Linked DNA regions of Homo sapiens: region 2 is linked to region 1. A link means that fine-mapping ties the variant in region 1 to the expression of a gene that starts in the linked region. Tissue or cell type: lymphoblastoid cells. Region 1 holds a variant in brackets; the other region holds the start of a gene. All regions are shown on one strand. Distances are from middle to middle.

What was found. PIP is the estimated chance that this variant, and not a neighbour inherited with it, causes the effect.
Region 2: it holds the start of RFFL, and the variant in region 1 is fine-mapped to the expression of RFFL in lymphoblastoid cells (GTEx, PIP above 0.99).

What each region holds. Positions count from the first base shown.
Region 1 is chr17:35,003,783-35,011,963 of GRCh38, reverse strand. LIG3 (DNA ligase 3) reads right to left here. Exons shown (of 20, transcript NM_013975.4): 20 at 2,221-7,691. The coding sequence ends at 7,458. It overlaps RFFL (ring finger and FYVE like domain containing E3 ubiquitin protein ligase), which reads left to right. Exons shown (of 7, transcript NM_001017368.2): 7 at 1-5,974. RAD51L3-RFFL (RAD51L3-RFFL readthrough) reads left to right here. Exons shown (of 7, transcript NR_037714.1): 7 at 1-2,852. It also overlaps the pseudogene OSTCP7. Among named protein-coding and RNA genes, the nearest start is that of LIG3, 27 kb to the right of the region's middle. The variant G/A (reference allele first, on the strand shown) is at 4,871.
Region 2 is chr17:35,058,824-35,067,004 of GRCh38, reverse strand. RFFL (ring finger and FYVE like domain containing E3 ubiquitin protein ligase) reads left to right here and starts at 3,298. Exons shown (of 7, transcript NM_001017368.2): 1 at 3,298-3,429. All of the region lies in intron 5 of RAD51L3-RFFL (RAD51L3-RFFL readthrough), which reads left to right. RefSeq lists enhancers at 3,117-3,216, 2,666-3,461, 2,548-3,747 and a silencer at 3,457-3,526.

The DNA of each region.
Region 1 (8,181 bases):
TTGCATCGGTTTCTTCAGTGCCTTACAGGGAAATAGCCTGGGGTGTCTGGGCTCAGGGTTGGCCAGCTTGCAGAGGAGCAAGCTAGTAGAAATATTGCAGGGTTCCCAAAACCAGGTCAAGCAAGATGCCATGTCACCCCTGAGCATGCCTGTCTTCCCAGGGGTGTACCTCTTGGCTGGCAAAGCCCAAGGCCAGTGGGAACTTGTATAAATCACATGGGTATGTTCTTGGTTCAGTGATCTTGGAGTGATGATGGTAACTGATGAACAGAGAACTTTCCAGAACTTGGGTCCTGTCTTCCTCCCTGAACCTAGACAGTTTCACCCCTCCTCCTGTACCCAACCCATCCCCACCCCATATGGGAGATGCTTGCCCATGTGTTTCATCAATCAGAAGTCCTCCTCCCCAGCACATTCGGATTTAAATTTCTGGTCTCTCCGGCTTTCTGTGCTTTAACTATCTTTGCTAAAGTCTCTTGCTACATTGCCTAAATCCATTTGTTTCTTTGGACCAAAAATGTTAGTTTACCAGACCGATAGTGGTCCTTAGGACAGATTTTAGACCAGTAAACTTATCTTTGGTGAGAAATGAAATACAAATGCTATAGAAAAATTTCAAAGTTGTTAAAAGCCACTTCATTAAATGCTGGGATTGGAAGCTGTTGGTCTCCTGACCTGACTCTGGGAGCCAACAAAACATCAGGCTCCCAAACTGCTGGGAAATTTGTTTCTGTCTGCAAGGGATAGTGCGTGCATAATCCCTGCTGCTGCTTCTCTTGGGACCTGATTTGCACCATCCTTAGTTTATGCGGAAAGGGGAAGCAATGGGTGGAGGCAGTGGCCTTCTCCTTAATTTTGGCTTGGCTTCTGATCCTTTTCCCAACTAGAAGTCTTAAGCCACTTTTCGCTGAAAATGAAATCCCTCCCTTATCCATGGTAGTTTTAAATTTGGTTTCATTGAAGAAATAGATTTAGGCAAAGAGCCTGTGCTCTTCTCTGGCCAGACTGCTGTTGAAGTTCCTGGAGAGCAAATGTTAAGACAGAGCACTTAAGAGCTTTCAGGAGGTACTGAATGAGACTGGATTCTGTTGTAAGCCGACAGTTCAAGTCTTTATTTCCCAGGTTGGTGGGGAGTGAGGAGACCCTACTTTCATTCCCTTTCCTAGCCCACTGATTTTTGGGGGCAGGTCAGGGAGAAAGCATTTTTTTTTTTTTTTTGAGTCTCACTCTGTTGCCCAGGCTGGAGTGCAGTGGTACAGTCTTGGCTTACTGCAACCTCCACCTCCCAGGTTCAAGCTATTCTCCTGCCTTAGCCTCCAGAGTAGCTGGGATTATAGGCGCCCACCACCACACCAGGCTAATTTTTGTATTTTTAGTAGAGACGGGGTTTTACCATGTTCACCAGGCTGGTCTTGAACTCTTGACCTTATGATCCGCCCGCCTCAGCTTCCCAAAGTGCTGGGATTACAGGCGTGAGCCACCACACCCAGCAGGAGAAACCATTTTCTAGGCTCTTTAGGAAGGACCATGCAATGAGTAGGTGATGTATTTGAGCCCTCACAGTCTTTACACCCCTAGAGGAGCTGGAGGACTTAAGAGTTTGCTGCAGAAGCGTGGCCAAGCACAAAACACATGATCAGGAAAGCAGAGTGTTTTCCCATTACCAATGGATGAACTATGCAAACCCTAAACGCCTTGGCAGACACCTCCCACCCCTTACCCCTCCCATGCAGCTGAAAAATCTGAGACTAGAACCAATCATGACTCTGGATGGCAGAGGGAAACCTCTAAAGGGACTTATTACATTGGTACAGACATATTTATGCTTTCTTCCATCACCAACCACTAAACCCCTTTGGAGGAATGAAATAACTGCATAAACTAGTCAACTGAACACTGGGCCACTTACCTCAATGTTATACAAAGTCCTGGATGATTTGATTCTGAACCACAGCCTTTGCAGGAGTTGGGGGAATCAGATTTGCTCATGAAGACATCCCTTTCCACTTTTGTCATGGGCAGTAAATACTATAGTTTACAATGCCTACCAATTAGCAAAGGATCATTCATTCAGCTACTCAGTTCCTCTGTAAAACAGGTCTATGTATGTGCAATTCAGCTAAGATCTAGCAGTAACTTAAGGGCAGAAGCTGGCTCTCTACTTACAACCTGCTTTCTCTGCTGAAGCCTTACCTCCTCTTCAGTTTCCCTCCTAGACACAAATCGAAAATAATATACTGATAGCTGGTTAGTAACCTCAGTAAGAATTAAAACTGAGGTTGTTTACTCATTTTGCCTTTAAATCTTTTATCCCCTTTTGGTGAAGGTTTCCCTTTAGGAAAAAAGGTGTCAAACAACCCTGATTTTTTTTTTTTTTGCATCATTTTTATTACACCAAATTAAAGTTGGGAGTTCCAAGATCCCATTCCAGTTAATATTTAACCAAGGTCTAAAATTTGATTTTTTTTAAATCTTTGAATCCTCCCTTCTGCCCCTCATGGATCCTTGGTTTTAATGATATGGAAACATCTAATTCTTAGAATTATTCCGTAGCTTTTGCTGATTACTCTGAGATTTCAGTTAAGACTTGTTTCAAAAGACAGATAGCTGACTGGTTCATAATACATTGGAATAGTTGGATCCAAACTAATAAGAATAAGCTGTACAGGAACTAGTGCTCAATATACATTGTATAAATTTGTGGAAATCTCTTGGATGTGAATTGTTACTTCAAGTGGCTTTTATTAAGATTTTCTCAGACTTACTTGGAGGTTAAAGCAAACCCAAATGTGTATTATTTTGTTACAGAGCTCTGCTTTATAATTTTGTAATAAAGTTTCAATACAGACACCTGTCCTGTCTGGTGCGAGGATGTTAGAGGTTGATAGGACTGACAAAAGAGCCTGACAGTGGTTCATGCTATAATTTCCACACTTTAGGAGGCCAAGGTGGGAAGACTGCTTGAGCTCAGGAGTTTGAGACCAACCTGGGCAATGTAGTGAGACCTTGTCTCTACTTAAAAAAACAAACAAGGGCCGGGTGCGGTGGCTCACGCCTGTAATCCCAGCACTTTGGGAGGCTGAGGCGGGCAGATCACGAGGTCAGGAGATCGAGACCACCCTGGCTAACACGGTGAAACCCCGTCTCTACTAAAAATACAAAAAATTAGCCAGGCGTGGTGGCGGGTGCCTGTAGTCCCAGCTACTCGGGAGGCTGAGGCAGGAGAATGGTGTGAACCCGGGAGGCGGAGCTTGCAGTGAGCCAAGATTGCGCCACTGCAGTCCGGCCTGGGCGAAAGAGCGAGACTCTGTCTCAAAAAACAAAACAAAAAAAAACACAAACAAAAAACCCAAAAAAACCAAAAAATTAGCCGTGCATGGTGGTGCATGTGGGTAGTCCCAACTACTTGGAAGGCTGAGGTGGGAGGATCACTTGAGCCAGGAGATTGAAGCTGCAGTGAGCTCTGATCGCCACCGCACTCCAGCCAGGGTGACAGAGTGAGACCCTGTATTAAAAAAAAAAAAAAATTGACAACTGATAAACCACAAGCTAATCCTGGGATGTGCACATGGCCTGGGATTAGCCTGTGGTTGGGCCAAGTGACCTTGGTCAAGATGCTCAGTGTTGTTGTAACTAACTAACTTGCTCAAGACCACAAATGTAATATATGGAAGAGGCCATGGAACAACCTAGAAGAGAATGAGAGCTGGGTAGGTAAAGGATGAATCCCAAGACCAATTGGGTTGAAGCACCAAGTGAGTTCAGATATTTACACTGATCTAGAAGAGATGGGCCTTAAAGAACTGAAATCTGAGGACAGTTAGTATGCCCAGTTAGGTCTTCAGGTTACCCTGGGAGATACATGGTACCTTTTGGATACAGCTGTAGTACAGCTGGACTATGGCTCAGAAAAGGTTGGCCCAGGCTGGGCGCCATGGCTCACGCCTGTAATCCCAGCACTTTGGGAGGCTGAGGTGCGTGGATGACTCGAGGCCAGGAGTTTGAGACCAGTCTGGACAACATGGCGAAACGTGGTCTCTACTAAAAATACAAAAACTTAGCTGCGAGTGATGGTGTGTGCCTGTTTGTTAAGTCTTAGCCACTTGGGAGGCTGAGGCATGAGAATTGCTTGTGAACCCGGGAAGCAGAGGTTGCAGTGAGCTGAGATTGCACCACTGCACTCCAGCCTGAATGACAGAGCAAGAGTCTGTTTAAAAAAAAAAAAAAGGTTGGCCCAGCCTCGTGACAGACTGCTGTGTGTGCGCAGGCTTGTACAAACCTCCCTGACCAGGCGCCCAAGGAGCAGGGAAAAGACTACTGAGAATGCAGCCCCTGGGAGAACAAGATTATGTGTCCATCTGCTGTGACTGAGAAGAGAAAGGAATCTTGCCAAAAGGGCATAAAGGATCGAGGATGAGCCACAACACTTTGCTCACATTGCCCTAGGGAGCTGACCTGTTCAGCACCCAGTGATGACCTCTGCTTGATGCCAGCCAGCAGCATGTAGAGGTTCAGAAGAGGGAGGCCTCCAGCATTCTGCTGGAGAGATTTATGATGATGATGTTGAGGGCTGCATTGAAATACATGAAAGAAATACATGAAAGGATACAAAATAGTATATACAGTCAGATCTCAGCAGCAAAGACTGGAAGAAAATACATAAAAAACCACTGACATTGAAATGGCAATAACACACACTAAGGCAGAGAAGGGACAAGATGATCACCTGCAGCCAGCAGAGGCCCTTTCCTGTGAGTGTGCACTCTGGGTGTAAGCAACCAATAAGGGCAAGTGGGGCTGGGTCCAGGTTGGAGAGGACAGTGCCTTTGGCAGGATCCTGAGGAGACAGCCTTGTTCTGCTGCCCTGTCC[G/A]GTTGTTTGTTTGGCCTGAGGCTGAAGAGAGAAATGGAAATCTATGTAGGTCAGTACTCAAAGGAGGAGCAGCTTTTTGTCTCCATAGAGGATGGAATAAAAAGTATCTTATTCCTAATACTGAAGCAAGGCTGAATGGTGCCTATTCAAAAACACCAAATGTCCTGGGCTAGAGTCAGGAAAGTAAACCCCTCCCCCGTGCTGTCCCTACTCCCCCAACATACACATTTTAAACAGTAGGTGGAAGCCAAAGTCAATCAGATCAAAGTTGGGGGGGGGCGGTGGGGTGGCCAGGGGGCGCAGTGGTCCTTGATCTTATAGGTCCAGAGCCTGTTAATTTGTTCATAAGGTGAGAACTGACCCTCAAGAGCTGGAAGGATTGGGACATGGCAGCCAGTTTACAACCATATGGTGTCCTGATGAGCCTGCACTCAGAGTGGAGTGTTGGCTGGAACATGCACACCTGCAACTGAGGGTTCTAAAGTCATAGGTTAGGCCCTTCTCCCGGGTAGGGTCTGGACATGCACACCAGGAGTGACGTTCCCAACTCTAGATAACTATGTGCTAGGCTCTGGGCTAAGTGCTTTACATAATGTTGCTCAGGACAACAGGACAACCCTATGATTTAGGTGCACCCATTCTACTTGGAGGGATTGAGGCTTAGATGTTAACGTAACTTGCCTAAGGTTAGAGCCATTAAGTTTCAGGAGTCTGATCTGAACTCCGTCTACACCTGCACTGTCCAGTGTGGTAGTCACTAGTGACATGTGACCATTTGAAGTTGAATTAAAATAAGAACTTCAGTTCCTTAGTTGTGCCAGCTTCATTTCAATTGCTCAGCAGCTGTCTGTGGCTAGTTTGGTTGGATACTGCAGATTTATGGATATTTCCACTGCTGCAAAAAGTTCTATTGAATAGCACTTGTCTACACTAAATTGTCTCTCTTCCTTTTGTTCTTCAAATAAATCAGCCTCAGGTAGCACAGGAGCTGTTCTTTGTAAGCAGGTTGTATGGATCTGTTCTCAGGTGTGGATTTTTATTTTTTTCCCTGCAGATATGGAGTATATTTTCTTTAAGAAATTAAAAACTAAGAAGAAAATGCCACTCAACATTGTTGGTATTATCAATAGGTCAGCAGGAAAAAAAAAAATACTGTGATAAACTTGTCTCTCTGATACCAAGAAGAAATTCTAGTCCGAGCTTCAATATGCTTCCTGTTTTTTTCGCTAGGTATTTCTTTTACTGCTGCTCTTCATTCTTTCCCACATTTCATATTGGAGGATTGGTACAGCCTTTAGAACTTCATTGACAGGAGCAAATCCAGTATCCACTGATTTCTTCTTAAAGGCGCTCTAACCCATCAGATAGCCCGGCAGTTTCATTCACATGAATACTCCAGCCATGAAAAAACTCAGTAGGACACAGACGAATCCAATGAATAGAAGAAAAAAAATCGATTGAGTTTTGGGATATTTGGTGCATTCGACTGGTCCAGCATTATGAAACCTAAACCTCCCATTGTAAACAGGAAGCTGGATGCAAATCCTTCCATAATATACTGTCCATTTACTTTGTAGGCCAAGAAAGCTACTGGCCTCTGATGCCCACGTTCATCAGCCAATACTTGGGGGTTCAACAATATCATATAATTATTCCTCCAGTCATGAGGAAGTAAGACACCACCACCAGAGCATACACAGTCATGGCTGATGGCATGTGCAGCCAGGGTGGCTTCTTCAACTTCAGGTTGGAACACTCGAGCACTAAGAATGGGATATGGTACAAAGTCTCCATGTTGGTGGCAACAAGGGCTGTTCTTGGCCTCAAGCCCCATGTGGATTTTTATTCTTAAAGAACAGTCTTGTTTCCAGGTTTTGGGGATGCAGATCTTCCTGGAGCCCTCTATCCCTCCAGAGGAGTGGCCCAAATAACCTCCCCTTTCTTCATAAAGGCCCCATTTTCCTACCTGACCCTAGTCCCCTCCCTTCAAACTGGGGATCCTCACCATGTAATAGGAGAACACAGAGAAGAAAGTAAAAAAATTCATTTTGTTTTCTTTCACATGAGGTTTGTTCCTGGCAAAGCGTGTCAGGCTGAATACAAGTTCCGCTAAACAGAAGCATTTCCGAGGGCAGTCCTTTAAATACAACTTTAAAATGAGCCTGGAAGTACAAAGGAACAGGCAAGGATGGGAGAGAAGGCTTTGTGGACAGAGCTGCCATAGCCCAGCCTTTACTCCTTAATCTCTAGGGAAATTATTGGGGGTGTAGGTGGGGAAAGGACAAAGATAACTGCAAGATATTTTATTTATAAAAAGGGTAACTAAGCTGCTTTTCAAAGAAAACAAAAAGATGGCAAACCCAGCACCCAGCTCTGAAAGATCTATTTAAACCAGCAAGACAAACTGACTTCAGCTGTGGCACCCACAGCAACTAATTCCTGGTCCAGAAGAGACAGTGGAGAACTGGTGGGTTTGGGAGAAGCAAGCCCATTCCCCCTATACTGTGTCTATCTGCCTCCAGCCTGAGTCCAGTCCAGTAGTATGGTAAAGGAGAGTATGGCCTGAGGGAGAGGGAAGACAGCAAACCTAGCAGGGAGCTACCAGTCTCCGTTTCCGGATACATGCCCAAATCCACTCTGGGGAGACCTGCTGGGCCGCAGGGTTCTTGTCCCTGCTACCCAGCACGTGCGTGGCTGAAGTCATATCAAATTCCTGTACCAGGTCCCCGTCGAATGCCACAAAGTAGCGTCTGAGACGGCTGAAGTCTGGTGTGGAGGGTGGCAAGTAAAGCCGCACCCCAGTGAAGATGTCCAGCAATACCTGCAAATGCAGAGGGGTCAGGGTGGGGTCAGACCTACACTGGGTACAGATGGGTCTTCACCCAAATGAGCACGGGACAGAATGAGGGAGCCTAGAGTTAGGACACAAGCAGAGAAGTTTACTGGAATACCATGCATCAATACCCCCACCCCTCCAGTCACTCCAAATTATACAGGACTGACACGCCCCTCCATCCCTGCCTAGGGGAAAAGGAGAGTGGACAGGCCTCGACATCTGGGACCTGGAGATGGGAAGAGTACATGTGTATAAGAGCCACCCAGTCATGGTGGGCAGGCGGAGCTGGCTCTGACTCAGTGCCCCCAGACTCAGTGATGTCCCCTGAGACCAAGCAGTCTACTCTGTACAACCTGCTAGACTGAGGGGTCAGGAGTCCTGCTTACTACTCTCAATGGGTTCAAGGACTTCAGGCTGGGAAGAGAGAGGGGAAAGGTTTCTACAGGTCTGTTGGGGACCGAGTTCAGGCCTTGTG
Region 2 (8,181 bases), 55 kb before region 1:
GTTAATTGTTGAGTATCATAAAGTTTACTTCATTTTTCATGTTTAATTTCTGTGATTTATTAGATGATAAATATTTGGTTGCCATCATATTGTTTTTCTTAAATACTATGTTCTATAGTTAAAAAAAAAAAAAGGCTGTGAGGTCACTGAACACCAAGATTAGAATTTGGCAATCATTAATTATCAACAAGGTGAGACAGGCACTGATTCCTGGAAATGTGCATTTATCCATTCACCGACTTCTCAGTTAGAAAAAGGATGTGGACACAAGTAAGATTAATTTTGTTAAAAACAAGAAATGTGCAGTATCATTTAGGATGCTGGGGGTAGGGAAGTAGATAAAAGGGAGATGTTGAGAGGAAAGAGTGTGAAGAGAGAGTAAAGCAGTTTGTAAGTGATACAAACTTTAAAATTTTAACTGAATTTTAAACTACCAAGTCATATTTGAATATATGCTTGTTGTAAAAAAATTCATGATTTTTGGGGGGTAATTTGGATAAAGCTAAACATAGCTATTTGATCTTTATTCCCATTACAGTGCTCTCCCTGCTGTGTGCATCCTCCCAGATCTTCTGTATGTATTTGGTAATTTTCTGTGGATTTGGAAGACTACAGAATCCTGAGAAATGGATATTTTAATTTCTCTTTTGAAACCTGCTTATTGTTTATAATGTCAAGATCTATTGCAGAAAAGAAAGTAAATCTGGGATGTCAATGACATCACATATGTCTGTTCAAATGAAACAATGGGCACATACACATATGCACACTCATTAAATATCTGTTGAGACCACCCTATTAAAAAAAGCATAAATAGTTTTGGGTGTTAAGTTACTTGAGTTTTAAAATAACGTATTTTCTGTTTTTGTTGTTTTTTGTTTTGAGATGGAGTCTCCTTCTGTCGCCTGGGCTGGATTGCAGTGGCGCAATCTCGGCTCTGCAACCTCTGTCTCCTGGGTTCAAGTGATTCTCCTGCCCCAGCCTCTAGAGTAGCTGGGGTTAGAGGTGTATGCCACCATGCCTGGCTAATTTTAAAATAATGTATTGAAAGAACTTAGTCAGAAAGCCACAGTTATTATTTCTCCCATAGCCTCATATTCTCATAATTTTCATGTAACCTCATAAATCCTCAAGTGCCTGAAACCACTAGTTCAAACGAGTACCTTTTTAAGCTCTAAAATGTAATCCTCAACCTTTCCACTTTAAAAGGAAGAACTAGGATGGAGTGTGGCTATAATTTGGGGCAGTTGGTTAAAACTGTATCAGAGTCCCAAAGAGGGGAATGATAAGCTGCAGCAGCTCTGTTCACTTGCTCAATGGTGTTTCTCTTAGTCAACTTAGGAGTTCCATGCCTTTGGCCTTCAGGCTGCTCTTTATATAGTTCGTATCTGTCTCCTGGGCATAGTACTGTCTGGATTTTCTCTTTCTTTTTTTTTTTTTTTTTTTGAGACGAAGTTTTGCTCTGTTGTTGCCCAGGCTGGAGTGCAATGGCACAATCTTGGCTGACTGCAACCTCTGCCTCCCGGGTTCAAGCGATTCTCCTGCCTCAGCCTCCCGAGTAGCTGGGATTACAGGCATGTGCCACCACACCTGGCTAATTTTGTATTTTTAGTAGAGATGGGGGTTTCTCCATGTTGGTTAGGCTAGTCTTGAACTCCCGACCTCAGGTGATCCGCCCACCTCGGCCTTCCAAAGTGCTGCAATTATAGGCGTGAACCGCTGTGCCCGGCCCTCTTATTTAAAGTTCGCAAATACAGAACAGGTCAGGAGCTTTTCTAATCATTTTTTTTTTTTCTGAAGGAGGTTCCATATTTGTCTGTACCTTGAGAGTTGTTTCATACTAGAATTTGTAACTTATCATCAACTACAGAAATTTTTTTTAAAGTGTGGTTGAAGAGATAATGGTTGTCAGCTGCTATAAAGATGTGTTTATCATTCAGAAAGGACTAATTAACATGTACTATAGGGAAACTTCTTTAAACAAAGCCATTTTCTGAAAGGAAAACACTGAAGGGGAGGAAATAAAACAGGGAACATTTTATAATACCTTATCAAAGCTCAGCGTGGCTATCCTACTGGAATAATGTAATTAAGGAGAATTAAGTGAGTTGGATAAATAACTTTTTAAAACTAGCCCCTTGAATAGAAAATTAAGTAGTATAGTTTTTAAACTCAAATTCTGTCTGCACGTACATTTTAATTAACCTAACATTATTGAATGACAAGCTGAGTTGGCAGCTACATCCAGAGTTCATGCCATGTGAGACCTACCTTAAAGGATGAACGAAGCTGGGTGCAGAGGCCTCAAATGCCCTGCTAAGAAATAGCTGATGGCCTTGGGGAACTGTCATACATTTTAAGCAGGAAACAGAAGGATCTAATAGGAACTTTAGTTTCTCTCTTGTCAAATTAAAGCACACAAAAAGCAAGGACTTGATCTTTTTTTTTTTTTTTTGTATAACACCAATGTCAATTCTAGCCTGTCAGGGCAAATTCAGTAATTAATAGCTGTTGATGAGCCAGTCATTCTAGATTGATTTTTTAAATAAGCAGGCTAATAAATGAGAATTGACATAAATTTAGGGATGTCTCTTTTCAGAGCAAGTGTTAAGGTGATTTTCATAGTCTTCTGTATTCCCTATGCATCCAGTAGGTGTGATGGTAAATGATTTGGCTTTAGCATAGAGAATGTGGCAGCTGATTAAAAAAAAAAAATTCCAGTGCATCTATCTTAATGAGAGAACTTGAGTTGTCTGAAGAAATAGAGAGGTCAGAGGAGGCCTAGTGGGAAAAAAGAACAATGAGCCTGGTTAGAACTGACAAAAATTCACCCTAATGATTTGACTGGCTAATGATGACTGGGCAAGTTCCCTGAGTCCACTGACCCAGATGTTCTAATTTGTAAATGCAAAGTGACTTATTTATCAGCCTCCTGGGGAAATCTTCAGAGCTGTGAACCTGCTATGTTCAGTAATCTTGCTGGCCCCAGCCCCAGCCTGTTCTCAGATGAAATTTTAGAAACTGGCCACTGGAACTTTTTGGGTAAGGGCTCTGGAGGTGGCCAAGTTACCAGTAGTGGGGGAATGAGGTTTACCTGCCCCCAGTAATCAGCACTTGATTTAAAACAATCAGTGAGCTGCCTCTTCTTTCCTAGGTTGCAGTTGACTGCGGTTGGTTCAGGCTGAGTTGTTTGGGAAGTACAAATTTTGCCCAGCGTGAGTCAGCACTGCCCTGGGTAAACTCCCTGCTGTGTTGCAATCTTGCTTACCAAAGATACATCCCCAGGCGGCACCATTCACTTCACATGAAAGCCGCTGCTCTTGGTTCCTGAGATGATCTCATCTGAACATGGCTCCAGCGACCTCAGCCACAGGAACTAGAGACAGCTTGCTTTCTGTCGTGGCAATGTTTTGAAACTGGCAAAATCAGGTAACCTCAAACTGTTTTCTTAAGTTTCATTAGCTAGATGAAGCTGCATTAGAAACTGGGAAAATCCTGTCTTCAGAAGTGAGTCAGGTTTTTTTTTTTTTTTTTTTTTTTTTTTTTTTTGAGACGGAGTTTCACTCTTGTTGCCCAAGCTGGAGTGCAATGGTGTGATCTCGGCTCACTGCAACCTTCACCTCCCGGGTTCAAGTGATTCTCCTGCCTCAGCCTCCCAAGTAGCTGGGATTATAGATGTGCGCCACCATGCCCGGCTAATTTTGTATTTTTAGTAGAGACAGGGTTTTGCTGTGTTGGTCAGTCTGGTTTCGAACTCCCAAGCTCAGGTGATCCACCCTCCTCAGCCTCCCAAAGTGCTGGAATTATAGGCATGAGCCACGGCCCCCGGCCAGAAGTTTTCTTTCATTTGAGTTCTGGATGTGGAGTTAGGTCCAATTAAATCACTGATTATATAAATCTTAGAAAAGTAAAACGTTAGGTTTACAGCTTTATCCGTCATTTGCTCTTGTATTTTGTTTTTTTGTGTGTATCTTGTGAGAAACACTTTAGTCAAACTAAGCCATTGTTAAAGGAAAAGAAGTGAAGGCATTTGGTTGCCTTCCTAATAACTAAATATTGAGTTGTGGAGAACACTGTCTTATCAGTGAGTTTGTTCCCATATTCCTTTCTGAATTAATAGGAAGAACCTCCCTCATCTCTAATTCTACTAGGCTACTACTCTATCTCCCTCCTGCTTTTCATCGCCAAACTTTTGAGTCCTTCACCTAATCAGACTATGATATCTCTAGGTAGTCGTCACCCTCCAAATTACGTTTCTGCTCCTTATAATTCCAACAAATTGCCCACGTTCTCTTTCACCTCAGACCTTAGCATATGTAAGCGTTCTTTTACACACCTTCCCCAAGCTTAATCTGGCCAACTGGTTTCAGCCTAGAAGTCACCTCTTCCATGAAGCCTCTTCTTACTTACCAGGGTTGAGTACTCAGGAGAACCTGGTATTTACTCCAATCATAGTATGTATTGAGAATCAGGGTCTGCTTTGCTAGAATTGTATCCATGGTACGTTGCACATAGTAGGTTCTCAGTAAGGGTAGAATGAGCAAGAGCCTGTACTGTACTTTCTCAACTCTGATCCTCTCATCAACTCTTTTTTTTTTCTTCTGAGAGGAATCTTGCTCTGTCACCCAGGCTGCAGTGCAGTGGTGTGATCTTAGCTCACTGCAACCTCTGCCTTCCTGGTTCAAGCGATTCTCCTGCCTTAGCCTCCTGAGTTGCTGGGACTACAGGTACGTGCCACCACGCCCAGCTAATTTTTGTATTTTTAGTAGAGACAGTGTTTCACCATGTTGGCGAGGATGGTCTCGATCTCTTGACCTCATGGTCCACCTGCCTTGGCCTCCCAAAGTGCTGGGTTTACAGGTGTGAGCCACCGCGCCCGGCCTTGTTCATTCTTTTTATGCTCACATCTTTAAATGTGCTAAACCCTGTTGATTTTGTTGGAGTACTGTTTGATGTGTGGCTTTTCTTCATTCCCACTGTCATTGCCTTAATTTACCAGAGGTCAAAACTGGACGTTTAAAGTCAGGCTGGGCACGGTGGCTCACGCCTGTAATCCCAGCACTTTGGGAGGCCGAGGTGGGCAGATCACCTGAGGTCAGGAGTTTGAGACCAGCCTGGCTAACATGGTGAAACCCCATCTCTACTAAAAACAAAAAATTAGCTGGGCGTGGTGGCACGTGCCTATAATCCCAGTTACTCAGGATGCTGAAGCAGGAGAATCACTTGAACCCAGGAGGTGGAGGTTGCAGTGAGCGAGGATCACACCACTGCACTCCAGCCTGAGCAACAGTGAGACTCCATATCAAAAAAAAAAAAGAGTTTGAGACCATCCTGGCCAACATGGTGAAACCCTGTCTGTATTTAAAAAAAAAAAAAAAGGCACGCCACGCATGGTGGCCAGTGCCTGTGGTACCAGCTACCCAGCAGGCTGAGAAAAGAGAATTGCTTGCACCCAGGAGGTGGAGGTTTCAATGAGCTGAGATTGTGCCACTGAACTCCAGCCTAGGCACAGAAGAAGACTCCATCCCAAAAATCAATCAGTCAGCCTAAGGGCTTAAAATTTTGTGTGTGAATACTTTTAGGCACCATCAGAGAGAAGGCCTGTACTCTTCAAAGATTACGGATACCACCATTTTCTGACATCTTACACACTGAAGACTTAGCATTTTACCTGCATTGCCTCTAGGAATTTGAGTTTGTAACTCCTAGTTCAGACCCTTATCAAATGGCCACTCCTCCATAAGTCTTTCCTTGCTCCTATCTTCTCCATATTGTTGCCCAAGTTATCTTTTTAAAGTCCACATCTAATCTTTTCATTTAAGGTGCCATTTGTTCCCTGTTTTCCACTTAGCTTGACTTCTAAAAGCTTTCACAGTTGGATTCTTTCCTACATGTTGCTGTTAACCATCTCATCTCCCTCTCCCCTGGCCATTTCTCTCCTCTCCAGCTTCACTGAACTTCTCATGTTAACATTCCATGGATATACCATGTCTTTTAGGACTCTGCCTTTTCCCAATGGACTCTCCCTTCTCTAACTGGCAAGATACTCATCCCTCAGGACACTTAGTTCATATATGCATCTTCTCTGACTTCTCTGTCTTTTCTGACAGACAGCACTGTCTGTCTCTTCCACTAGACTGTTGAGTTCTTTGACTGAACTTGGTGTCCCTGGACTAGAGCTTGGCACCATCAGAGAGAGTGGCTGACGTGGATCTCCGGGCTCAAACCGTTATTCTTTGCAATATTAGAAGCTTTTTTGTTAGATGGCATGGTTTTTCATTCCTATTTGATGAACATGAGCCCATGGCTGCTTATTTTGTATGTGTTACCTGCCACCATCAAGTAATCATTCAAAGTTAATTTGAAGATTTAAAGGGTTTGCTGAGATCTAGTCCCGCAATATCACGACATTTTTATGGTGTTTTACAAAATTATTTCCCTCATATGGTTTTATTTGCGTTGGGTAGGCTTTATTTATTATCCCTATTTTACCAGTGATTATAAAGCTAGTCTGATACCAAAGCATATATACATTTAGGTAAGACTCAGAGAGAAAACATGGTTCTTACACTGCATTAAGCAGCTGGTTTGTCTCTTAATATAGTAGTTAAATATACTCTATCAGGTTCCACAGAAATGGTGCCTTTGCTCGATAGGCAAGTGCTAACGGTCTTGCCTTTTACAAGGCCACTTTATCATCAAGGTAGGAGGAGGAGGTACTCTGAACCTGCCTGACCTATGGGAAGGCCCTGGTTGTGGTTAGAGACCTTGATTGAAATTAATGGTGTGCGTACTCCAACCTCTCAGGTTTTTCTTTTATACTTCAAATATCTGGAAGTTGTGAAAACCTGCTGCCCTGGTGGAGTATCAAACCAGGCTGGTGAGTGAAAGCGGTCATCCCAAAATGGAGTAAGCTGAGTGTTAAGGGCAGAAAACCTTTTACAGTTATAGTAAGTAATTAACTTTTTAGATCACTTCACAACTTTTGGAGTGCTAAAATGCCATATTTGGGACTATGAGAAATTCCATTATAAAAAGCTGAACCATTAGAGCTAGGAAATAATCTCTGTTAGATATTGGCATATGGTGTTCAATTTTGGGTCTCTCATACTTGAGAGGATAATTAAAATGATTAAAAGGTTGAAAAACAGGTCTTATCATTATAAGTTTTAAAAAGGGGGGAAAGATTTTAGCCTAGAGAAAGAAAAGCTAAGAGATAACTTCATTATCATCTTCAAATACAAGAATAGTTTTGCCAGGGGGATTTTTATTAATTATTCTTCATGAACTTCAAAGATTTAAGAGGAAATGGTCTTAAATTGAAGGAGGAGCAATTTTGATGAATACGAGAAAGAATTTTTTGATCATCAAAGTGGGGAAATGTTTGAATGACTGCCCAAGAGAGTGTTGAATTTCTGACTGTTTCAGTTGTCTATTGTGTGACAAATTACCCGAAGACTTTTGGTGGCATAACATGACAACCATTTTATTGCCTATGATTTTGTGGGTTAGTAATTCAGGAAAGGAGGACATATTTTTTTTTGTCCCATATGATGCTGATTGAGCTGGAGGATCCAAGAAGGCTGCACATGTCTGTACCTTTGGAGCTAGCTGTTGGCTGGGATATCTTGGTTCTCTGTGAGTTCTCTTTCTTGGTCTCTCATCACTTATAAACCTATATCGAGTGGCCGAGCGCAGTGGCTCATGCCTGTAATCTCAGCACTTTGGGAGGCCGAGGTGAGTGGATCACCTGAGGTCGGGAGTTCCAGACCAGCCTGACCAACATGGTGAAACCCCGTCTCTACTAAAAATACAAAAATTAGCTGGGTATGGTGGTGGGCACCTGTAATCCCACCTACTTGGGAGGCCGAGGCAGGAGAATTGCTTGAACATGGGAGGCGGAGGTTGCAGTGAGCCAAGATTGTGCCATTGCACTCCAACCTGGGTGACAGAGCGAGACCGTCTCAAAAAAAAAAAAAAAAAAAAATTCTAGCTCGAGCTTCTTTTACATGGTGGCTGGGCCATAATGGAAGCTGCAGGATCTCATAAGACCTAGGCCTGGCAGTCATACATCATCACTTTTGCCCCATTCTTTTTGTCAGAGTAAGTCACAATTATAGCCCAGATACAAGAGGAGGGGACATTGACTTCACCTCTAAAGGATAGAGGGTAAAAATCACA